Homo sapiens: one gene and its partner. The protein of the gene in region 1 purifies or fractionates together with the protein of each later gene. This does not show direct contact. Each region holds a gene or a part of one and is shown in the gene's direction. Other genes may lie near its edges. The genes, in order: PINX1 and FAM98A.

What was found.
Region 2: the proteins of PINX1 (region 1) and FAM98A purify together in Homo sapiens (affinity purification with mass spectrometry; 2 studies listed by BioGRID and IntAct, with this or other methods). This does not show direct contact.

Annotation. Positions count from the first base shown.
Region 1 is NC_000008.11:10,815,876-10,822,875, reverse strand, and holds part of PINX1 (PIN2/TERF1-interacting telomerase inhibitor 1), read left to right. Parts: intron 1-2,606; coding exon 2,607-2,683; intron 2,684-7,000. UniProt on the Homo sapiens protein: Microtubule-binding protein essential for faithful chromosome segregation. Mediates TRF1 and TERT accumulation in nucleolus and enhances TRF1 binding to telomeres. Inhibits telomerase activity. May inhibit cell proliferation and act as tumor suppressor.
Region 2 is NC_000002.12:33,592,064-33,608,558, reverse strand, and holds the start of FAM98A (protein FAM98A), read left to right. Parts: upstream 1-9,259; 5' UTR 9,260-9,337; coding exon 9,338-9,390; intron 9,391-12,921; coding exon 12,922-13,070; intron 13,071-16,344; coding exon 16,345-16,479; intron 16,480-16,495. UniProt on the Homo sapiens protein: Positively stimulates PRMT1-induced protein arginine methylation. Involved in skeletal homeostasis. Positively regulates lysosome peripheral distribution and ruffled border formation in osteoclasts.

The DNA of each region.
Region 1 (7,000 bases):
AAACCTTAAGTGTTTTTTTATTTTAGCAAACATATTCCTTGCCCTTCACTTCTTTACTCTCGGCAGCTCAACTCTGCTTTTCCATAGAGTTGGTTTTTTGAGCCTCAGTTCTAATACAGCTTGTTGGGTTATTGCTAAACTGTTTCCAAATCATCTTGATTCCTAAGTTCTCGTGTCAATGAAAGTTTTAGTTGCCTCCCATGTGTATTTCTTGGTATTGTAAATGTGTCTGACTATAGCAGTAATGTTCCTCCCTTCCCAGTAGCTACTCTGATAGACTGGGAAACTGATAATCATGATTATTAGACAAACAGCTAAAGCAAACCTAAATAGAGTGTTCTTCCTTGAAAGTACCTGCTCATCCTTGCAGGAACTTTCAGTTTGACTCTTGGAGGCCTTTCTTACTGGTTCTGGAAATGTTACGCATTGAAGACTAATAGATGAACCAAATCCAGATAGATGTTTCCTATTCAGTTTTCTTCATTGTCGTTTTCTCTAAGTTTATCAACAGTATTTTGTATGATTTGACCATAATTCAGAACTCAAACAAATAAGCTTTTTAAATGCTTTTTAAATTTGTCGTATTTATTCAAAAGCGGCCATAATTTCCTGGTGTTTATAAGCTTTCCATCAGGACCATTAATTAGTAACTATCTCAAGGTCACTTCCATCTTCACCTTTTTGTCCACCTTTTATGTTCCTTTCCACTGGTCTCTGACTCTTCTTTCTTCTCTGTGTTCTTGTTTTCCAGATCAAATCCAGAGCAAGGCCTGTAACAATCCTGGTTTCTACATTTACTTAAGTGAACTTTGCTAAAGGCTAAAAATTTCTGATACAAGAATCCATCATCAAAACTTTAGACACATTTGCACCTTCATTGATATAGCTTACTGTCTCTACCAGCTTGACAGTTTTCCCTTTGACTTTCAGATCTGTTTTGAATCTGTGTGTTCACATTTTGACATCATGTTTTAGAACTGTGATCTCGCATGTACCCTCTCTTCCTTAATCCCTCCAGCATTCCTTTTAGTCAAATTGCTATAGAAGAGACCTTAATTTGCATTTTCTAGAGTGTCTCTATTCCAGAGGATAGGTTAGGGATAGATGGCCAGTACACATTTTGAATTAAGTACAGCTGCCTTTTCTGAAGTACAAACTGTGCTTTGCATTGGAAAATGGGTTGTGCTGGCAGCAAAGCTGTGAGGACATCTCTACACCTCCGATGAGTTTGTCCACCTCTTCCCGCTACAACCAGTTTTCTTCCCCACTTTCCCGGTTCATTTTCTGCCGTATCTGTGGTGTGCATCGTCTATTCTTAAGTAGGTTTTCTTTTGGGTCTTTTTGTGTAGGTCCTATTTAATCATAAATGAAAAGCAGGAGGGCTTAGTGTCAAGCTCAGGTAGGAAGGAGAGCAGCAGCCAGAGCCCAGAGGAGCCTGCCCTCCTGGCAGGAACAGGTCATACCGCCTGGGCCACTTCATCTGGTACTGCTGCCTAGGAAACTGGTTTTGGCACCTGGTTTTGCATTAAATTGAAGAGTGTTTTGTTTTTTTAATTTCACGGAGTCACTGAGCAATATCATATTTAAGTGCCCCAGTGATAGTGAACTAGAACCTTCTGGGTCATGACATTACTTTGCCAAGGCAGTGTGCTACAGGAAACCAAGAAGACAAGTGAGTCTGTGACGGTGGAACTCGGCTTCCAGCGTGAGACTCACATTCCTGTGTCTGACCCAGAACCTCCCTCGCCCAGAGCCTCAAGCCTTTACATGGAGTAGTTACATTTTAAAATGCATTTACCATGCCGTTGACAAATGGGACTAGATTTGGCCTACTGCTCACAGAGGATTATTGGGTAGAAGTGGAAATTCCAAAGAAGTGAATTTTAAATTAGTTGGTTTGGGGGTTTGAAATTAAAGAGTTTAGTGTTTTAAATAAGAACCATAGAGCCATTTAATTTCCTACTCTCCCTATGTAGCTTTTTATTTAGAGACAATATAGCTAGAGCAGTAAAGAACATTTTAAGAAGAAAAATCTGAAACCCTGTCACCCTTTTACAGTATTTTTGATTTACATATATTCTTTTAAAATTTTTATTTGTTGAGTTAATTATTAAGATCCTGTGTGTCAAATATGATACGTTCTCATTCATGTGCATATGTGGGGTCTGGAGCTGTGTATCTAGTGATATTTTTTCATGTGTATTTCGTAATCTTCTAAGTAAGTAGCTCATGTCTCTGAAGCAAATGAGATCTATTTTTAAATGAAGAACCCAGAGACCCAGGAATTGCATCTTGAGGGCATAGCGGGAGTAGGGTGAGCTGTAGAATTTAGCTTTCCTTGCAGTCAGTATGCTCTAGGTTGTTTCTACAATTAAGAGAATGTCAAGAGTTCTGGTTCTAAAACATTTACTTGGTTTTAAAATTTAATTAATTTTGTTTACTAATGAAAGAGTTGTAATGAAAAAGTGGGTAGAAAGTCAGTAGTTTCAAAATTGTTTCTTTCTTTCCCAAAAGCCATTTTCCTTTGAGGTGCTGCATAGTTCATGTCTGCGCTCTTTCTTTTAGGAAGAACAGTCTTACTGAAAAGCATCACATTGTTTTTCTAGGGAAGGATCTGTCATCTCGGAGCAAAACAGATCTTGACTGCATTTTTGGGAAAAGACAGAGTAAGAAGACTCCCGAGGTATAAAGCCACGTACAGTTTCCGTGTTCCGCTTTAATACTGTCTGATTTTCACCTGTGTATAGGACTGTTTCTATCTATGACTAGTACTTTTCTGACAAACTTTCCAAAACACTTTGGAGGCTTCATGCACAGCCTAGATATGATCCTTTTCATAATATTAGTGGGTAGATAATGTTTTATAAGGAATCTTTAAAAAAAAGAATAAGTGTTTTCTGGTGTTTGGCTTTTGTTCTTTTTGTTTTGGTGTGAGGACTAGATTAAACTTGGGGAAGAACACCCATTGCCGATACAATCAGAGGGGAAAATATCTCTTCCATGGCCGAGAAGGGGAGGGATTTTGTCTGTTCTGCTCAAACTGCATTACTCCACTTGGAATGGAGGTGGGAGGAAGCATGTCACCTTCATTCTCTAGAACCAGCCTGTCCCATTCTAACAGCATTTGAGACAGCGCTAGATCAGCACCATCTATAAGGGGGTTTGATGGGTATTTCCTCTATTATACAATATTATTTGCCTTACAACTAGAAGAAAAGAATGGGGTGACTAAACTACACCCTCAATGGAATGAACTCCATAATTTATTCTAATTATTAAATTGGGCTGTATAATATTGCAAAGAATTTTTTGTGCTGTTTTGAAGTGTAAGAGACAGCCCTGGATATAGTTTGAGATATATTAGGATTATGGATTTCTAAAGATAACAGGCTAAAAGTATTTAGAACTGGCATTGTCTGAGAAAATCTGGAATATATGGTTGTGACCACTGTTACTCAGCTAATCTGGTATGTTGTACTGATGATCTTTTATTGGTTTGTAGCCAGGGCCCTTGGTGACCATAGAACAAAAAAGAAGACTTGGTTTATTGATTCCTGGCATTTTTCCAGACTGACAGAAATCTTTATTTCTAGGGTGGTGGTTTGTTTCTTAATAGTAATAATTTTTAGGGAGTCCAGAATTACCAGTGGTTAGAAGTCTCATTAGATGATTCCCTGTGCAGATTGGGACTGAATTCCTGGGTCTTTTAGCCCCTGTCTGCCCCTGCACCCTCAGCAGATGGAAGCAGCAGGCTGGGAAAGGATACCTGGCTTTGGTGCCTGCGCGGACTATGCTGAGTCACGGGATAGGCAGTGGTCACTAGGGAGGAGCCGCTCTGACATCCGGCCGTGCCGGCTGCTCCTTCACAAGGGGCTGCTGGAAAGAGCCATGGTCAGACAGGCTGGCTTCTGGTTGTACCTCTGCCCTCAGTGCTCACCGTGAGACCTGGACTACGCCACTCTTCCTTGTTCACCAAGGACATGGCCTCTGGCTTATCCCAGCCTCCTCTCCAACCCCTCTTCCTTGACTCTCTCAGTCGTCTCCGTGTCCTCAGGAAGAACTAGAATTCCAGTCCCGCGCCTCTTGAACTCCATCTCCTTTGCTCTGCCCAACAGCTGCCCCCACCCCACGATCACACCCTGAGCCTTTGTATCAACTCCACGTCCCTCCCATACCTTGAGATAACCCCCATCTCCCCAGCCCCGTGGGGCTCACGTGCCTTCTGTACTGGCGTTTCCACATCCCTGCACGTTGATCCTCTCTTCTGCCTGCTGCTCACCCACCACCCCCAGCCTTTGCCCTCCCGGACACCCTCTATGAAAATGTACAGTTGAACAGATCAGGGAGGGAAATGTTACTTGTGGGCTTTTGTAGAACTTTAAGAGAATTTATGTGTTTGGTGCAGAAAGCTCTTAGTTGTAAGAGATCAGAGGTTTCTGATCCTCTGGCAGATTTCTGTTTGAGAATTTATTGGGTGTTGGGTGCCTTGAGGTTTTCAACACTGTGTGGTGTTACTTGACTCTTTGGTAGCTAAGTCATGTTAAAGTGAGACATCCACCTGTGTTTGAGGAGCTTCAAAAGCAGTTCCCTAATGCTAGCCCCAGGAAAATCTCTTTTGGTCCAGTGTGTGTAGAGATGATCAACCTTGATGCAACATCGTGTTTTGTGTGAGATTTCCATTAGTCACATCTCTCTCTCTCTTCCAGTTCAGTGTTTTCTTCCAGTGATAAATTTAGGTCCTACCTGTTGGTGAGGTGGTCTTCTACCAGGCCCTGCTCTCCGTCTGTAGCCATAGTTCTCAACAAGGTCGTCCTGGCATTGCCTAATGAGCTTTAAACAAATGCTAATGCCAGGGTTCTGCCCAAGACCGATTAAATTAAATCTTCGGTCAGGGTCCAGGTATCTATATTACAAAAGGAGAAAAATTTAAAAAAAATTTTTTTTTAATTCCTCCCCAATTGTTGCAGCAGTTATTCTGACGTTCAGTAAGGAGCGAGGGTTGAGAACACGGGGATAGCCTGCCATGCAGCTGTACTGAGAGCTTCTGGCTTCCGGGTCGTGAGTAACCCTGAGGACAGAGCTCCTCAAGTCCTGCCGTGTGTACAGGTCTTCCCTGTCAAACTGCAGATTCCAACTCAGGAAGCCTGGGCGGGGGCTGAGAGCCTGTACATCCCCATCCGAGGAGCCCCCAGGTGATACTGCTGCTGACCTGTGTGCCACACTGAGGAGGTCGCGTCTAGGCAGTATTTTCCTTTTGACATGCCTGCATGTGTGCAGAAAACAGAATCTATTTAAATGTAATCACATTTAAGACAAACAGAGTATCTTTCTATAAAGCAAAATGACCTCTACATTTATCTTTGACATCCTTGTGGATGTTCATATGTTAAGTTTGCTTTTATTGAGGTATACCGGTACCTTCCTTGAGTAGACTATTGCTAAGAAACCTTAACCTTGTTAGTTACAACAGCCCTTATAGTCAAAGGCAGGAGGACTTTGATCAGATTTGTTTGAAAATACAACCTCTTTCGGCTCCCATCCTCAGTTGGCGGGAATGTTGTATGTTGTTGCTTCGCTTGACTCTCATAGCTCCGTCGGTCTGGATTTATATTTGGCATTGCAGAGGCCAAGGTGTTGCTGGAGGTCACCTCCCTCCAGAGTCCTGGAAACCGTGGTAGTGCGGGCCACTAAGGTAGCAGTAGCTCTGTGGGTGCTCTAGTTAGGTGCCGATGCTGATCTGTCTTCAGCATCCAGAGTTCCAGAACGTTGGCGTTAACCATGTTCTTGGCTTGGGTAACAGCATCACCCTTGCAATAAGGGAAGCCTACTGATTTTAATTTCTACAGCTCCTGACTGCCATCGTAGAATTCCAATTTTATTAAGCACCTGTGTGCCAAACCCTGTGCTGGATTTTTCTCATTTCATCCTCACAGCAATCCCGTCATGTAAATATCAGTATCTCCTCTGTAGCAGTGAGGAAACTGAGGCACAGAGAGAATTGTTAGAATGCTCCAAAATGGCACACGTGGGCTTTTAAATCTGTGTCCGTCCAATTCCAAAATCAGCCTTTCTCCGATAATACAGCAGTCCTGCCGAAGTTAATGAACTCTTTCTCATTTAACAAAAAATCTACATTGAAGGGGGTTAGTTAGGCCTTAGCAGCTTCTGTTGAGCTTCACCAGAGACACCAGTGGTTGATGCTGTATCGTAACTTTGTGGGAAAATGATTGGCTGTTGCTATTTTGTGGAAAATAATGGTTTAAATTTCAAAACTTCTTTACCTTACCTGTAGTCAGAGGTGAGCTGTTAGGGGTTGACAAGCATGTGACCAGGTGTCCAGGCCAGCCTGAAGAACGACTTGACTTCCTTATTGGCTGGAGGCTGAATTAAGAAAGAGCTTGAGCATCTGGAGCATAGATGTTGTGTTGCTTGTGTATTTTTTCGTCTCTCTATTGAACTGGATGATCTGAATGTATTTATATCTAAGAAACATCTGCAGCCCTTGATTAATAGTCATGAGGGTTTTTTCTTTAACTTTTTATAGATGAACAGGATGTTGCAAAGATAGTAAAGGGGTTCTGTGTACCCTTCATCTGGTTTTCCCCAGTGGTTACATCTTACGTAACTACAGTACAGCATGATGAAACCAGGAAATTGGCATTGGTACCATCTGCTCATACAGCTCTGTGCCCCTTTATCACATTTGTGGATTGTGTAACCATTATTATCTCAGTGAAGATCCTGAACTATTTCATTACCACCAAGGCCTCCCTTGTGCTAACCCCAATCATAGTTGCATACCCCTCCAACACCGCCCGTGACCCTGACAATCACAGCTGCCGACAGAATCGTCTGATTAGGAGTGGAATATCGTGTGTACAGACCACATGGTCTCTCCGTTTGATGCTGAGGCTGCTCAGATCTGCAGGGGTCACTACCCAGTGCTAAAGGCCGATTGTCGTTTCCATGATCTACTTCCTGCACTTAGCCATGCTCAGTG
Region 2 (16,495 bases), on another chromosome or scaffold:
TGGTTTATAGAGACTTAACCCAAGTTTTCCAAAACATAAAGTAATCTAACCAAGGATTTGAAAAAAAATCATTTTGGCTTAAAATGTATTTTCTTATCTCTATTGTGATTACAAACAATGATCCTATTGTTATAATGAAGAATGTAAATATATAACTGTTACTAAGAGTTGGAAATTATGATTTGCTGAGGACATTCAAAATCAGCCTCTAGTTCATTTATCTAATCATAATGGTCATATTTGCAAACTCTCTCTAGGACAGTGATTCACAGCCGCTATTCTGATTTAACCCTGTTTTGTTCCCAGTACACTCCTAATCAGTAGCATCTCTCATCACAATGCTGTGATTCTCATGGGGACTAGGGGGGCTGTAGAGCATGAAAAGTCTCATTGAGGATTCTAATGCACCCCCTCCCCCACATAGACACCAAAAAGAATCTCTGCACTAGGATAAAATACAAAGTTGCTAAGAACAATCTAAGTCAGCAGAGAATATATCATCCTCCCAGAATAGCCAAGTTTTAAATAGGCATTGACTGAGTTCCAGGATGATCCAAGAGCTCAGAGCATAATTCATTATTGTATACTTATTTATTCGCTGCAAAGAACCACTATTCTTTAAGAGAGCAAAATCTAGTTATGAAAAAAGGAAAATTTTCTTGTCAATCAACTAATCAATTTTTTTTATGGCTGCTGGATAGGCATCAATGTATTAGGCACTATGTAGGACATGGGTGGGTTGAAACTGCCTTTGCAAAAATTGTATCAGTGAGAAAATTATGGCAGTGGGGGAGATCTGATCTAGCCAACTCCCCTCCTGCCTTTAGCCTTCAAGCAATCGAGCTGCCTTTAATTATTACTAGACTAGCTTTGGGAGACATTTAGTTTATGGTTTAAATGATAATAGCCCTTCCCCAAAACTCAAGTGCCTTTGTAAAGCTAATGAGAGGCCACCAGGCTAGCAGGAGGGGAGGAGCCTGAATTCTGCTAAGGTGTAGACATAAATGATTGCCAGTCTTTATTCTGGAGGTAACAAGATATACAACTTCCCCAATTACTCCTGCAAATAACATATCTATTGTAGAATCTAAGAGTGGCCTTCGGAGATATCTTTTCAGGGTTTTTACATGTCTGACATCTACGCCTCTGGCTCCAACCTGGACCCGCCCACTGCTCCTGTGGCCCCACCCAGAAGGGTTTCAGCATGCAGAAGGATCATTTCCAACAACCCTATGATTGCATCCACCATCCAATCAGCAGCCACCCCCACCACTTCCCCCAGACTATCTTTGAAAAGCCCTAGTCCCTGAAATCCCAGCTCTCATGAATTCAACTCCATTGCAATGTCCCTGCCTTGATAAGTCAGCTCTATCTGGGCAGCAGGCAAGGAGAACCCATTAGGTGGTTACAGTTTTACAACCACTGGAGAGAAAAGATCACAACACATGAAATAAGCAACATAAAAATAAAACACTAATAAATGATAAATTATGAAAGACTACTTATGAAGCTATCTGAAGTGGTACTAAGAAATACAGATTCCAGCCAGGCACGGTGGCTCACGCCTGTAATCCCCAACACTTTGGGAGGCTAGGGCGGGCCGATCACTTGGGCCCAGAAGTTCAAGACCAGCCTGGACACAAGGTGAGACCCCCATCTCTACCAAAAAAAAAAAAAAATTAACTGGGCATGGTGGCGTGTACCTGTGGTCCCAGCTACTCGGGAGGCCTGAGGTGGAGGGATCACTTGAGCCTGGGAGGCAGAGGTTGCAGTGAGCTGAGATTGCCCCACTGTACTCCAGCCTGGGCAACAGAGCCAGACCCCGTCTCAGAAAAAAAAAAAAAAAAGAAAGAGAGAGAGAAAGAAAAAAAAGAAAAGAAATATAGAAACCCCACCCCATAACTGCTGTGCTATGTCAGAATGCCATAATATCAGAAATGCTGACATAGACTCATCAGAGGCAGGGCCCAGGAATCTGCATTTAAGTCTGCCAGGTTGTTATGCTACTCAATCAAGTTAAGCACCGCTACCTCAGAAATGCAGAAGAGAGGAAAATTAATTTTAACCAGTACTATCAGAGAACAACTTTTTTGTGGAGCAGTGAAGCTGAGATGGGGCCTGAGTGAAACCACCTTTGCAGAATTATAAATAATGAGCGAAATCTAACAGGGCTAACTCCATCTTGCTTCTAACCTCACAGGCTAAATTGCTTTTTTATTTATTCTAGCACAGAGGCCAAGATAACTATGAGAGGAATTTAGTTTATAGTTAAACTTGGAGGCAAGGGAAACTAACTCCCCCCTGCCTCTGCCTTATCCTACCATGCCCACACACACTATCCAGAGATTGAAGCCACATTCTTAAGACACGGGTAAAATTATGGTAGGAGCTTGAACTTTGCTAAAGAATAGGCATAGTTAGGCCGGGTGCGGTGGCTCATGCCTGTAATCCCAGCACTTCGGGAGGCCGAGGCGGGTGGATCACGAGGTCAGGAGATTGAGACCATCCTGGCTAACACAATGAAACTCCGTCTCTACTAAAAATACAAAAAATTAGCCGGGCGTGGTGGCGGGCGCCTGTAGTCCCAGCTACTCAGGAGGCTGAGGCAGGAGAATGGCGTGAACCCGGGAGGCGGAGCTTGCAGTGAGCCGAGACTGCGCCACTGCACTCCAGCCTGGGCGACAGAGCGAGACTCCATCTAAAAAAAAAAAGAAAAAAGAAAAAAGAAAAATTGGCATAAACAATTACCTGCCATTGCTTAATGTGTTTTCCTACAAGTTGCTAACTGACCCAGAGTCACGTAACTGGGGCCACAACATTTATAACTTCCTCTACTACTCCTATAACCTTACTATTATGAACCCTAAAGAACTGGGTCACTGAGATATTTTTTAGATTCAGCACTTCAGTACCACCTGGTCCTGAGAACAGACTAAGCTGCATGAAGACAGTTACAGACACTGTTGTGATTTCACCCCAGCCAGTCAATTGTTTCAGGTCCCCAGCCCCCTGTCAGTCAAAGTACCCTTTAAAATCTTAGCCTCTGAATTATCAGGGAGACAGATTTGAGAAATTTCTCCCTGTTATTGCTTGGCCAGACCTACGATTACTAAACTCTTTCTTTGCTGCAATACCGGTTCTCACTGGTTCTTTTAGGGCAGCGGGCAAGAAGAACTAGTCGGCCTGTGACATGAGGACAGGGTAAGATGTGAACTAAGTAGCTGACAGAGCAGAGGGTTTACACGTGTGCTCACCTGAAGCTGCCTGTGCCAAAATGCTAAGGAAGGCTTGGGAGGAGAGAATGAGTGCCCAAGGCAGTTAGAGAAGGCTTCTCCCAAACTGAGTCTCAAAGACTGAGCAGGAGGAATCTGCCAGGCAGACGAATGAGGGAAACAGGATTCCAGGCAAAGTCTGTACAAAAGTATAGAGGCATGAAAGGGCAAGTTATGTTAAGTGACCAGGAGGAGTTCCATGAGACTGGAATAGGCAGAGAAAGGAGGAGAGGCCCATGGGAGACAGGGTAGAAAAAGTGATAGACCTGCTTAACAAGTAAAAGACTAAACAAGGTTGGAAATCCCAAACCATAATGCAGGGCAAATAAATGCCTGGATGTTCACACATATGACATAATGTGTGACTTACAGGGTCCAGAAAACAGAGGGAACTGGTAGATCCATACCCCATGTTGAAGGGGCAACCTGCTCAACCCAAGCCAATCATTGCCTTTATGGGCAATGAGGTTCCTCCAATGCTGCCAAATCAGCAGACGTTTTCGCCCCAGAAAAGCCAGACACTCAGATTTTTAAAATAAAATCTCCAAACTTTTAAATGTAAGCTCAGTTCTTTAACTTATTAAACAGGCCAAACAAAATACAACGCTTGGTCTGGTGTGAAGGCTAGTTTATTACCTCTAGGCTACAGTCTAATAAGCTCTTACTGCATCCAAATTAGATGGGTTTCTATCTGGTTCACTGTGTGCCTGATTGCAGAACATGGCAACTAGGCTGAAGCTTTGTTGGGAGAACAACAGAAATCAAATTTGGAGCTTTTATTCTGGAAAGATCTGGATATATCTCTGTGTGTGTTTTTGTATATATATACACATTTGTGTGTGTGAATGTGTGTGTGTGAATATATATATATATATATATATACACACGTACATTCACACACATAGCACTTCCTTTGTTTAGTTTAAACACAGGCAAGATGTTGTTCTCAAACTTTGTAATATTCTCTAAAAATTGCCAGGGCTCAGAAACTATACTAACATAGCCAGAGGAATGATTTGAAAAAACAGCATTCTTTAGTAATATAAAGTATTTGAGACCATACAAGATTTAATTCTACATGCTAACTTAAAAAAAAAAAGAGTTGTGCTTTCACTGTGCAAGCTGAAAAGGACTTTATTTAGCAACATATACAAACTTGCATTTCTGAGCAACACCAGTAAATCTATGGTCTTTCTATTTTCTCCTTGCTGGAGGGTCATTCTAAAGATAAATTCACTAAAAATGGAAAATGCTGCTATTTTTCAGACAGTGTTCTTTTATTTTTGATAGAAAAGTTATTTGTTTTAGATGCCTATTTAATCACCTCTTAGAAACCAATCCATGACAAATCTTATATTTGAGCTTATACCTACCTCTTTTCCATGATAAAAAATTACTTCTATAGATGCTAGAAGTAACTTTCTTAAAGATGTCAGCTGCATAAATTTTTAATTACTATATAATTAAAAACCTTCTAATAATTTTTAAGGTTATGACTTATAAAACATGTTCCTCTGGAAACTGAAATCAGTTTTCAATTTTCCCATTTACATTTCTTTCACAAGTGAAAAAAATAATTTGTCTTTATTCTCTTCAAGAAGAGCTAGAAAAGGCTGATCTTTAAGATCATTCATTGTTTCTACTCTCCAGGAAAGGCAGTGTGGTATGGACCCCCCTCCCCCGAAAACTATCTGCATCATAATCGTTGGAACATGAGACTATGGAAAAAGGGACTTTGCAGGTGTGGTTAAATTGAAGATCTTAAGGTTGGGAGATTATTCTGGATTATCTGGCACAAGGATGGGGGTCCTTATAAGTAAAAGAGGGAGGCAGGAAGGTAAGAGGGCATGACTACCATGTAGCAGGGGTCGGAGTGGTGTTGCTGGTCTTGATGAAGGAGGGGAGTCATAAGCCAAGGAAGGTGGGTGGCCTCTAGAAACCAAAACAGGGAAGAAAACAGATTCTCTCCTAGAGATTCCAGAAGAAATGCAAACCTGCCCATTTTTGCCAGGTGAGATCCATTTCAGGTGTCTGACCTCCAGAGCTGTAAGATAATAAATCTGTCTTGTTTTAAGCCTCTAAATTTGTGGTAATCTGTAGCAGCAGCAGTTAAGAATATGGACAGTAACCAGACTCCCTCAAAGATGGGACACTAGAATAGCTTTATTTTATATTTTATTTTATCTATAGAAAACAGAAAAATGATTTATTCCAAAAGATGGCAGAAATGAGAAATTCATGCTGAAAATATACCTTGGGCCGGATGTGGTGGCTCATGACGGGGTGCAGTGGCCAAGGTGGGCGGATTGCTTGAGCCCAAGATTTTGAGACCAGCCTGGGCAACATGGCAAAACCGTCTCTACCAAAAAATAAAAAAACTTAGCCAGGCATGGTGGCCAGCGGCTGCAGTCCCAGCTACTTGGGAGGCTGAGGCAGGAGGATCACTTGAGCCCAGGAGGTTGAGGCTACGAGATCACCACTGCACTTCAGCGGGAGCGACAGAGCAAAACTCTGTTTAAAAAGGAAGAAAGAAAAAAAAAAGAACACATAATTTGGTGTAATTCTGTTGGGAGAGCTCTTTCCTCTGAACGTCCTCTCCTACTGACTGCCCCACTGGAGTCTTGTCAGGCAGTAGTACGTTCTAAATAGTTCACTGATTCCCATGTTATGAGAAGGCAGGAGCCACTACAAATCCACAAATTCCAAGGACATAATAACACATTTCTCAGAAGAAAAGCATCTTCTCTCTCAAAAGAGTGCATTATCATTTTGAGGAGTTGGCACAGTTTAGGTTAAGTAGGCACATAATTCATTAAAGCATAAAAAAGTTGAAGAAAAAAATGCTGCATTGTGTTAGACATTCAAATGTGGTGTGAATGTTTAAGGCAGCTGATGCCCAAAATAAGCAAGTCAAGAAAAGTGGTGTGGTTTGGATTTTGCATCTAGAAGGAATTCTTTTCTCATGACTGCTAAGACTGAGCACTGTAAAGCCTGTCTTCCTCAAGGCCAATGACACTTCGGATACCAGATGATTTCATGTTTCAACTGCAGTCTGAAGAGAGGGTTGAGTTGGCCAGGATTGCAATCAGCCAAAAGAGACAGCAACAAACTGAACAGGTCACCTACATGGTAATGATAACTCCCTACTTAGGACCCTTAGGGATGAACCAAGGCATGAAGAAACCAGTGAAGCCCTAAAACACGCTCATTGCAATGAGACGTATGGTGAGGCCCTGATATGCCATGCTTACCGCTGGTCTGCCAGCCCCTGCCCCTCTGCCTCACTTGGGTCCCACCTGGAAGTCATTTTTAATTAATTTTTTTTTTTTTAACAGAGACAGAGTCTTGCTATGTTGCTCAAGCTGGCCTTGAACCCCTGGCTTCAAGTAATCGTCCTGCCTCAGCCTCCCAAAGTGCTGGGATTGCAGGTCTGAACTACCGCGCCAGACCCTAGAAGGGTTTTAAGTTGGTATTTTATATTCTTTTTTGAGAAAGAATCTAGAATCAAAGTCATCAGTAAAAGGGCATGTGCTGGCACTTGTGGGTGTGCCTTCTCACAAGAGTACCCTTAAGTAATTATTCAGCCTCTAGGTGAACACCTTCTAGACAGGAAGCTCATCATCTCTCAACGATACCTAAGTCACTTTAAGACTACTCTTAGAGTGTTAGAAAAATTCTTTCTTATACTGATCTGATGCAAAAACCAGAGCTTCCTCACTTCCAAATCATTGTTCCTTTCATTCTAGTAAACTCAGTTTCAAAGAGGTCTTCAGATATCAGGTTCCATTATAAACATAAATAATTTCTAAATAAAATGCAAAAGATTCCTCGTAGATCCCATTAAAATGATGACAATTTTTTTTCTTTCTTTCTGAGCCTGCCTGGTAGGGAACACAATTTTGTTTAAGTAGTATTTAAAAGCTTTTTTTAATTGCAGAGAAAGCCATTGTAGAATTCCTTTAAACCATAATATATAAAAATTTCATATCAGCAATCCTTCATTTAAGCTAACGATGTGAATTAGAAAGAGAATACTATTCCTGCAAAAGCTGGATTTTTTTTAAAGAAAGAAAGGGAATACTAATACTTTTAGGGAAGTCATCACTCGTTCATTCACTAATATTGAACACAATATTATATTCAATATTAGTTCAATATTGAACACAGCTTACATCAAAAGTGAGTCAAGAATGAAACCCTTTTTCTTTCAAAATTGATTTTTGTATTAGGCATGACTTTTTGTTTAGCACCTTCAACAACCCTATGAGGAAAATAATTATTCAATTATTATAAGGTAATTATGTACAATATATACAAGTTTAAACAAATTCAACTAGCTAAATTTTCCTCTTTTCACATCCTGCGTATAAATCCTTATTTGACTAGTCAAAAAAGAAGGAATATGGATTTAGATATACCTCAATCTCAAAATCTAGTTTCATACTTACAGGCATTAAGATCGCTGAAGATTATTAAGCCACTCAGCCTTAGTGTCCTCATCTGTAGAATGTGACTAATATTCACACAGCCTTATGGTGACTGCATCATAATGGGCCATATCAAGTGCCCATGGTAAGTGCAGAAAACCTACCCCCACTTCAGATGATGCAAAATAAGGAAACTGAAAAAGGTACTACTGGCCGGGCGCGGTGGCTCACGCCTGTAATCCCAGCACTTTGGGAGGCCAAGGTGGGCGGACCACAAGGTCAGGAGATCGAGACCATCCTGGCTAACATGGTGAAACCCCGTCTCTACTAAAAATACAAAAAATTAGCTGGGTGTGGTGGTGAACGCCTGTGGTCCCAGCTACTTGGGAGGCTGAGGCAGAATAATGGCGTGAACCCGGGAGGCGGAGCTTGCAGTGAGCCGAGATCGCACCACTGCACTCCAGCCTGAGCGACAGAGCAAGACTCCGTCTCATAAAAAAAAAAAAAAAAAAAGAAAGAAAAGAAAAAGGTACTACTAAGGATAGGAACATCTATCCATCAGACACAAAAATGCTTGAGAACTATAGAATAAAATCAACAGGTATCAATATGAAAACTCTTTAATTAAATGCCTACACGATTTAACAGTACGCCAACTTATGGTTAAATATAGTTTTCTAAATATGCCATCACTTTGAAAACATTTCTGATTTTTCAGTAATTTCTAAACACACCCTCAGTAACTGCCAAGATATCACAACACATCCACATCGTGAACTCAATGTTTCACCCGGGCAAATAATGTCAAAAGTAATGACAGTACAGCCAAAAAGTTTATTCACTGTCTAAACTACGTGGATTTAAAAATATTCTATTCTATTTGCTATGGAGTGAAGCTCCCCTTCTCCTTAAAATAACATGCTTAGTGTCTGGGAAGGGCTTTAGACATCAGGTAGAGAATGCATGAGGGAAAACGACCCAACTTTCTGAACATCCATAGTCTGCGGAAAGTTGGCTCATCCCTAACCCTGAAATAAAGCTACTGCAGCCACGAGGAAATCAAATGGCACGCTATCTGCCGTCTGCACTTGGCCCGCACCCGCGTCCTGAAGACGGGAGCGCAAGAATTCTCCCTTTCTACATGACCTGCAAGCTAAGGCTAGCACATGCCGGCACCCTACGAAGAGCCACCCGATCTCCTGTCTGGGATGCAGAGACTCGGTTTAACAGCCGACTCCACCCGCGTCCCGAGACTCTTCCAAGCTCCTTCCCGGCCCGCCGCGCCCCCTACATTCGCACATGCGTACACCCAATAACGAGAGCCGAGAGCGCTCCCCTTCGCGTGGTCCCCACGCCCAGCTGCCACGCAGCCGGTCCTCCTACCCTTCTCTGGGCGGCTAGCTTCACGATCCAGTAACGCGCATGTGCAAAACTGCGGGCCCTGTAATTCTTTAGTGGGCAGGGGTGGGGCGGTCAGTGGGACCAAGTTTCTTGCGCACGCTCCGGACATGCGCAGTGCGGGAGCTGAGGCGCCAGCTGTGGATTTGGAAGTTCCGGGGAAGTCGCGCATGCGCGAGTGTACGCGTTGCCGGCGAAGAGGGGAGCCTGACGACTCGGAAATTTGAATACCACAGTAGCATGGAGTGTGACCTCATGGAGACTGACATCTTGGAGTCGTTGGAAGATCTAGGGTAAGATTGTCAGGGCACGGGTCTCCCAAGCCCCACGCTGCCGGCCCCCTGGGAACACCTCCTGCGCCCCAGTCTGAGACACCTGCCTCTCCACGCCGCACCCCGTGGCTCCTGGCTGTCGCTTCCCTTTGGCCCCGGCACCCCCAATGCCACGTCCACTGTCTGCACTGCTAGCTCGGGGTCCTCCAATCCCAACACCCCTAGGCCTGCCCAGTGCTCCCTGCAGGCGAGCTACCCGCAGCGTTTGTCAGTCATGCGTGTCATTGTCTGGGCTCTGATTTTCGCCACCCCCACTCCCCGAGCTTCTCTCCTCGCTTCATCCTCCTGCCCTACCCCTTAACCCCTCAACTCTAAAGGTTGCCAAAGTTGATTCTGCTTTCCTACTTGTTCTCCAAATTTCCTACTCCCATCTTGAGCCCCTCCTCCTACCCCACCCCACTTCTCTCAAAATTTCTCCTTTGCCCAGTCATCTCTGCATGCACCCAGGCTTCGCTAAGCCACTTGTATGGGCGCTGCATCTGTTCCGCTGGCCAGCTCGCTTGTGCATCTAACCTATCACCACGTCCCTGGGAACCACCAGCAGTTTGCTTTGACTCTGTGATACTCTGCCTCGTTGAGCCCCATTAGACCAGGGTCGTCTTCACCCACGAAGAACCTGCGTATTTGTTTTGCATTGTGTCTCTCCTTCTCCTGATATTTATTCAACCATAATTCATCAGTATCTAGAAGCTGGAAATAGGGTTTGTTATCTCACTGGGTCACCCAGATCAGTGTACTCTATTAAACTTGAGAACGTGGACCCTCTTGGGCTAAATGTGGTTCCAGAAACAAATTGTATGGTTAGATACTTACCTACAGGTACGGTATCAAAACAAAGTACAGATTTAGCTAGCTGTATTTCTAAGTAACAAGTTCTTTATCAAAATTTTCTCTTAGGTTTTTCCATGACAAGGAAACCTTTGAGAGAAACCTTTCTTTAGGAAAAAACACCTTGAGGATTCCCAAAGTCTGCCTATTTGAATAATTTACTACCCTAGTAGAAATTTTTAGGAACGAAGTAGTCTTGCTTATCATCTGTCTTTGTCACAGTGAAATACTATTGTTCTTTTCTTGGAAACTTGCTCTGAATTTTTATAAATATTCCAGACTTTAGGGGGCTTCTTTCTTTCATTAGGGCATATGTTAAAGTCATTCAGCAAAATAGTCTCTTTAGTTGACATCTCAGACTGAATCGCTTGTTCACACATGAAACCATTCATTCATTAGGACTTTTTTAGGAACAGTTTCTTTGTGGCAGTGTTAGGCCCTTAGAGTACAAGGTGAGGTGGAAGAGGGGTTCACAGGATACTGGGAAAATATGCTGTGAGGAGCCCTGAGGAGGGTCCCTTTACTGGGAAAGGAAATGAAATCCTAGAAGCTTCTTTCTGGAATAAATGACACTATAGTACTGTAGTGGAATGAGTGGAATGAAAGGAAGGGGGTAGACCTTATTAAATGTAGTCTTTCTGCATGGATAGTGGTCACTTAAGAATTGGCCACGGATGCTGTTTCTTCCCATTATTGTCTTTTTTTTTCCCCCTCCTTTTTTTAACTTTTTATTCTTTTGGGTACTGTACAAGTAATTGTTACTGTAGTAATTGTAATCACATAACTACTTGACATAGAGTGTAATGTAAACCATGGATTTTCTGAAAACTGTTATAAATTTTAACCTTAACTACTTAGTTTGGTGGCATTCAAATATTAAAAGTCAGCCTTAATTAACTGAAATGTACTTTTAAAGGATTAACTGAGAAATATTAGAATTAAATGACTACCTTTTCTATTTATTTATTTATTAAGAGATGAGGTCTTGCTCTGGTGACCAGGCTGGTCTCGAACTCCTAGCCTCAAGCGATCCTCCCACTTCAGGCTCCGGAGTAGCTGGGACTACAGGTGTATGCCACTGATCCTGGCAAATAGTCATCTTTTATCTCTTACCTGGCACACAGTAGGAATTCAGTAACTACTTGTTGAATAAACTAATGAAGTCTAAATGTGAAACTCAAGGAGAAACTTCTAGGCCTAGTCTTTTGATTTCAGTGTCTAATAATACATAGTTTATAAATCTAGATGCCAGACTACATGTGATCTCATTTTTTTATGTATGATTTGTTTTCATTTTGTTGCATATACTGTATAAACCTATAATCATATTTTAAAGGGTTTGAGAACTGTCATTTCTCTAACATACCTGTAGTTCTCAACATTATATTATCTTTTTTTTTTTTTTTTTTTGATACGGAGTCTTGCTCTGTCGCCCAGGCTGGAGTGCAGTAGTGCGATCTCGGCTAACTGCAAGCTCTGCCTCCTGGATTCAAGCCATTCTCCTGCCTCAGCCTCCTGAGTAGCTGAGACTACAGGCGCCCTCCACCATGCCTGGTTAATTTTTTTGTATTTTTATTAGAGATGGGGTTTCATCGTGTTAGCCAGGATCGTCTTGGTCTCCTGACCTCGTGATCCACCTGCCTCGGCCTCCCAAAGTGCTGGGATTACAGGCGTGAGCCACCACGCCTGGCCTAAACATTATATTATCTTAAGCATATTTATTGTATCATCTTAAGTAAGCATTATTATCAATATTTAAGAGAATGTAAAGCAATCTGAATAATATGTATTTAAGATTACTTGGAGTGACAGAAATCTTATATTTTAGAATATTGGTGATTGGAGTTCATTATGACTGTCATCTTTTATGAATGTTTGAACATTTTTAAATTTTTTAAAATTATATTGGAATCACTTACAAAGGATTAGGATTCAGATGCGCCAGTTCATTAACTGCCAATATTTATTAACCTAACCTGACGTTTCTTTGGTACTAGAATGTCTTACTAGTCTTAACTGGCATTAAATTTATAAAAATGATATAAATGGTTAACTGGAAAGTTTTTACTTTTAAAGGAAGTCATTAAAAACCTAACTAAGCCTGGGCAACATAGTAAGACCCCTGGCTATTTTATAAAAAATAAAAAAAAAGCCAGGTTTGGTGGCTTGTGCCTTCACTGCACTTCAGCCTATGTGACAGTGCAAGACCTCATCTCAAAATAAAAACATAATCTAGTTGTTTTCTGGAAAATTTTTAGAAAAGATAACCTAAGTTTTATTTCTGAAATAAGTTACAGTATAATTAGCTATTACTTGTTAATTTGCTTTTAATACTCAATTCAATTACAGTAAGAAAATAAATCTTTTTACAATGGAAGCTTTTAGTAAATGTACAGAAGTTGACATAATTTAGTAGTATATGCAATTCTGTTAGATATTCACCTACATTTTGAAAGGTTGAAATGCAGCTACCATTTAGCTGCTTTTTGTAATGGTTCAGTATAGTTCTAAATTATGTTTATATTTGTCCATTTAAAATAAAGATAAGTACTAACTTATCTTTATTAAATTATTGCTTATATAAATAAGACATAGATATGTTTTATCTGTAATATATTAGGTATGATTGTATTTTCTTCTGAAATGTAATTTCTTGCTCACCAGTTACAAGGGCCCATTGTTGGAAGATGGAGCGCTCTCTCAGGCAGTCTCTGCTGGAGCCAGTTCCCCCGAGTTTACCAAACTCTGTGCTTGGCTGGTGTCTGAATTAAGAGTGCTCTGTAAACTAGAGGAAAACGTGCAAGCAACTAACAGTAAGTAAACATTCACTTTTAGGTACAAAGTATAAAAATAACATTGAGGTATTGTCAACTGAACATTATCAATACTAAAGCTGAAAGTTGCAAGTTTTTGTAAATGTAAAAAATTTGTAAAGAAGCCAAGATTTTTTTTCCGTCCGTTGTTTTTAGAGGTGATTCAGAAGTTGAAATACCAGAATAAAGTCATGTAACTTAAAAATTCGTGGATGCTGAAAAGACCCTATTACTGGGATACAGAGAAATGGAGACCACAAGCATAGAATGTATGAACTTCCTATATTTTGTAAGATGTTAAATGTAAGATCCTAGATTGATGGCTAGAACTAGATACTGGGATATTTTTCTTTTAGGATTACCAGATTCTAGAAGCATCTATAGCATGTAGAGTAAATGCATTATTATTCTGTTATGCTTGGGGAGAAAGAGAACACTTTGTTAAGACATTTTGTTTATCATAAGAATGCATCGTTAGATACATCACAGTGAGATCCAGGACAATCAAATTTATGGATCTGAGAGCTGTTCTGCATTTACCAATTTTGTTTCCACTGTTGCACTAGTTTGTCGACACTGCAAAAGAGGCAAAAGCTTGGAACCTACCACTCTACCATCTGGTTCCTTCCTGCTGTAGGTAAACCTATAATAGGAGACCAAGGAAAATACTCACCTGTTAACCCACCCTTATGGAGAGCTATACATATAATTCCTTTTTTTCCACATAATCACGTTTTGAAGAGCTCACCTTCTTGCATGCTAGTGTGTGTGTGTGTGTGTGTATATATATATGTGTATATATATGTGTGTATATATATATGTGTATATATATGTGTGTATATATATATGTGTATATATATGTGTGTATATATATATGTGTGTATGTATGTGTGTGTGTGTGTGTGTGTGTGTATATATATATATATAATTTTTTTTTTTTTTTTTTTTTTTTTAACTTTATGTTCCGGGATACATGTGTAGAACATGCAGGTTTGTTACATAGGGATACGTGTGCCATGGTGGTTTGCTACACCTATTGACCTGTCCTCTGAGTTCCCTCTCCTCACCCTCTAACCCGCAACAGGCCCTGGTGTGTGTTGTTCCCCTCCCTGTGTCCATGTGTTCTCATTTTTTAACTCCCACTTAGTGGTGAGAACATGTGGTGTTTTTTTTCTGTTCCTGTGTTAGTTTGTGGAGGATGATGGCTTGCATGCTGGTATATTTAATGTGTACGTGTTAGTTGCATTCAGTTCTAATTATTAAGGAGAGTATAGTGTAACAGTAATGATAGCAACAGCTTACATTTATTGTGTACTCACTATGTTCTAAACACTTTATATGTGTTAACTCATTAAACCTCAGGGCAACCCTATGAGGCAGGTTTTATTACTGTTATACCTTTAACAAGAAAGCCCAGAGAATTTAAATACATTGCCTGAGGTCATACAACCTGTAGGGGTGAAGCCTGGTTTCAACCCCAGAACAGTAGTCAAGTTCTGAGCCAGTGTGCTTGAACACTGTGCTATACTGCCTCTTGACCAGATGTTTGAGAGACTGTAGGAACCTTTGAAAACACCAGTACTAGATGATACCTCTATTTAACCTGGAGCCCCTTTTTCTCAAATGAAACATGATACAGAAGCTAACATGTAAAACAGGTTAGAAGGTATTCTAACAAAGTAGAGACGAGGTACCTTTAGCCCAGCTCTTTCCTCCTCATCCTCCCAGCTGCCTCTAAAAGAGCTCTGTGGAACTCAAGGGCTCACAGATCACAGTTTGCAAAATATTCATAATGTAGGCTTCCTGTATTACAGATTAGAAAATGGACTCAGGTGATCAAGTGACTCTCTCAGAGTTTGTTAATTTCTTCCCCTTTGTGATAGTGAATAGAGAACAATCAAAATAATGAAGAAAGAGCTTTGTTTTTCCTTTGGTTCACCCAGTGAACTCTATACCTTTTTTTATATGCTGTGGGAATACAAGACTGTAAGTCATGTTTGCTGTCTTCAAATTTTTTCTAATTGAGAATGTTAGGCACAAATTAAACAACTGGAGATAAGTACAGTCCTTTTGTTTGTTTGTTTTTAGACAAGATCTCACTCTGTCACCCAGGCTGAAGTGCAGTGGCGCGATCTGGGCTCACTGCAACCTCTGCCTCCCAGGTTCAAGCAATTCTCCAGGTCAGCCTCCTTAGTAGCTGGGACTACAGGCATGTGCCACGACAACTGGCTGATTTTTGTTATTTTTCTTAGAGACGGGGTTTTGCCACGTTACTCAGGCTGGTCTCGAACTCCTGAACTCAAACCATCCACTCGTCTCGGCCTTCCAAAGTGCTGGAATTACAGGCATGAGCCACCGTGCCCGGCCAAGTACAGTACTTAAATGCTGAACCACTTTGTGGTTCACAGAGAGAGGAAATCAGCAAGTACGAGGGTGAAGTTTCAGCCAAGTACAAGGAAGGTTTCATCAAGGAGCAAGGCCACTGGGCTTTGATGGATGGGTGGGATTTGCTAGAGGGGAAGAGAGTAGAGGACATATCTGTCACAGGGAATAACTTAAATGAAGGCACAGAGTGGAAATAAGACTGGCTATTCATGGGACAGTGAGGAGACTGGCCTGGCACACACAGGAAATATTTGTGGAGGGAATGTAGGTGATTATAGCTGAATATGCTAGGAAGAACAAACCTAAGCAGCTATGAAGAATCTTTAAAAGCAGACAGAAAAAAATCAGATTGGATGAGGGAGAAATTAGGGAACCATTAAAGACTCCCAAATAAGAGAATGACCTAATGAACACTGAGAAAGAAAATTTTAGATTGGGAGCAGTGGCTCATGCCTGTAGTAATCCCAGCACTTGAAGACGCCAAGGTGGGAAGATAACTTGAGGCCAGGAGTTTGACACTAACCTAGACAACATACTGAGACCTAGTCTCTACAAAAGAATTTTCTAAATATTAGCCAGGCATGGTAGCATACACCTGTAGGCCCAGCTATTCCGGAGACTTAAACAGGAGGATCCTTCAAGCCCAGGGGTTTGAGGTTACAGTAAGCCCTGATCACACCACTGCACTCCAGCCTAGGCCTCAGAGACCTTATCTCAAAAAAGAAAAAAAAAGAAGAAACTTTGCAGTGGTGTAAGAAAGGATAAATTAGAAGGGGAAAAAACTCAAGTTATGAAAATCCTATTAACAATTTCAATTATATATAATAATTGTTATGCTAATGGAAAAATAATCACTATCATTAAATAAGATTATTTTAATTCTTAAAAGGTCCGAGTGAAGCTGAAGAATTCCAGCTTGAGGTGAGTGGGCTACTAGGGGAGATGAACTGCCCGTATCTTTCACTGACATCTGGGGATGTGACCAAGCGCCTTCTCATTCAGAAGAACTGCCTCCTCTTGCTCAGTAAGTTCATGGCTAC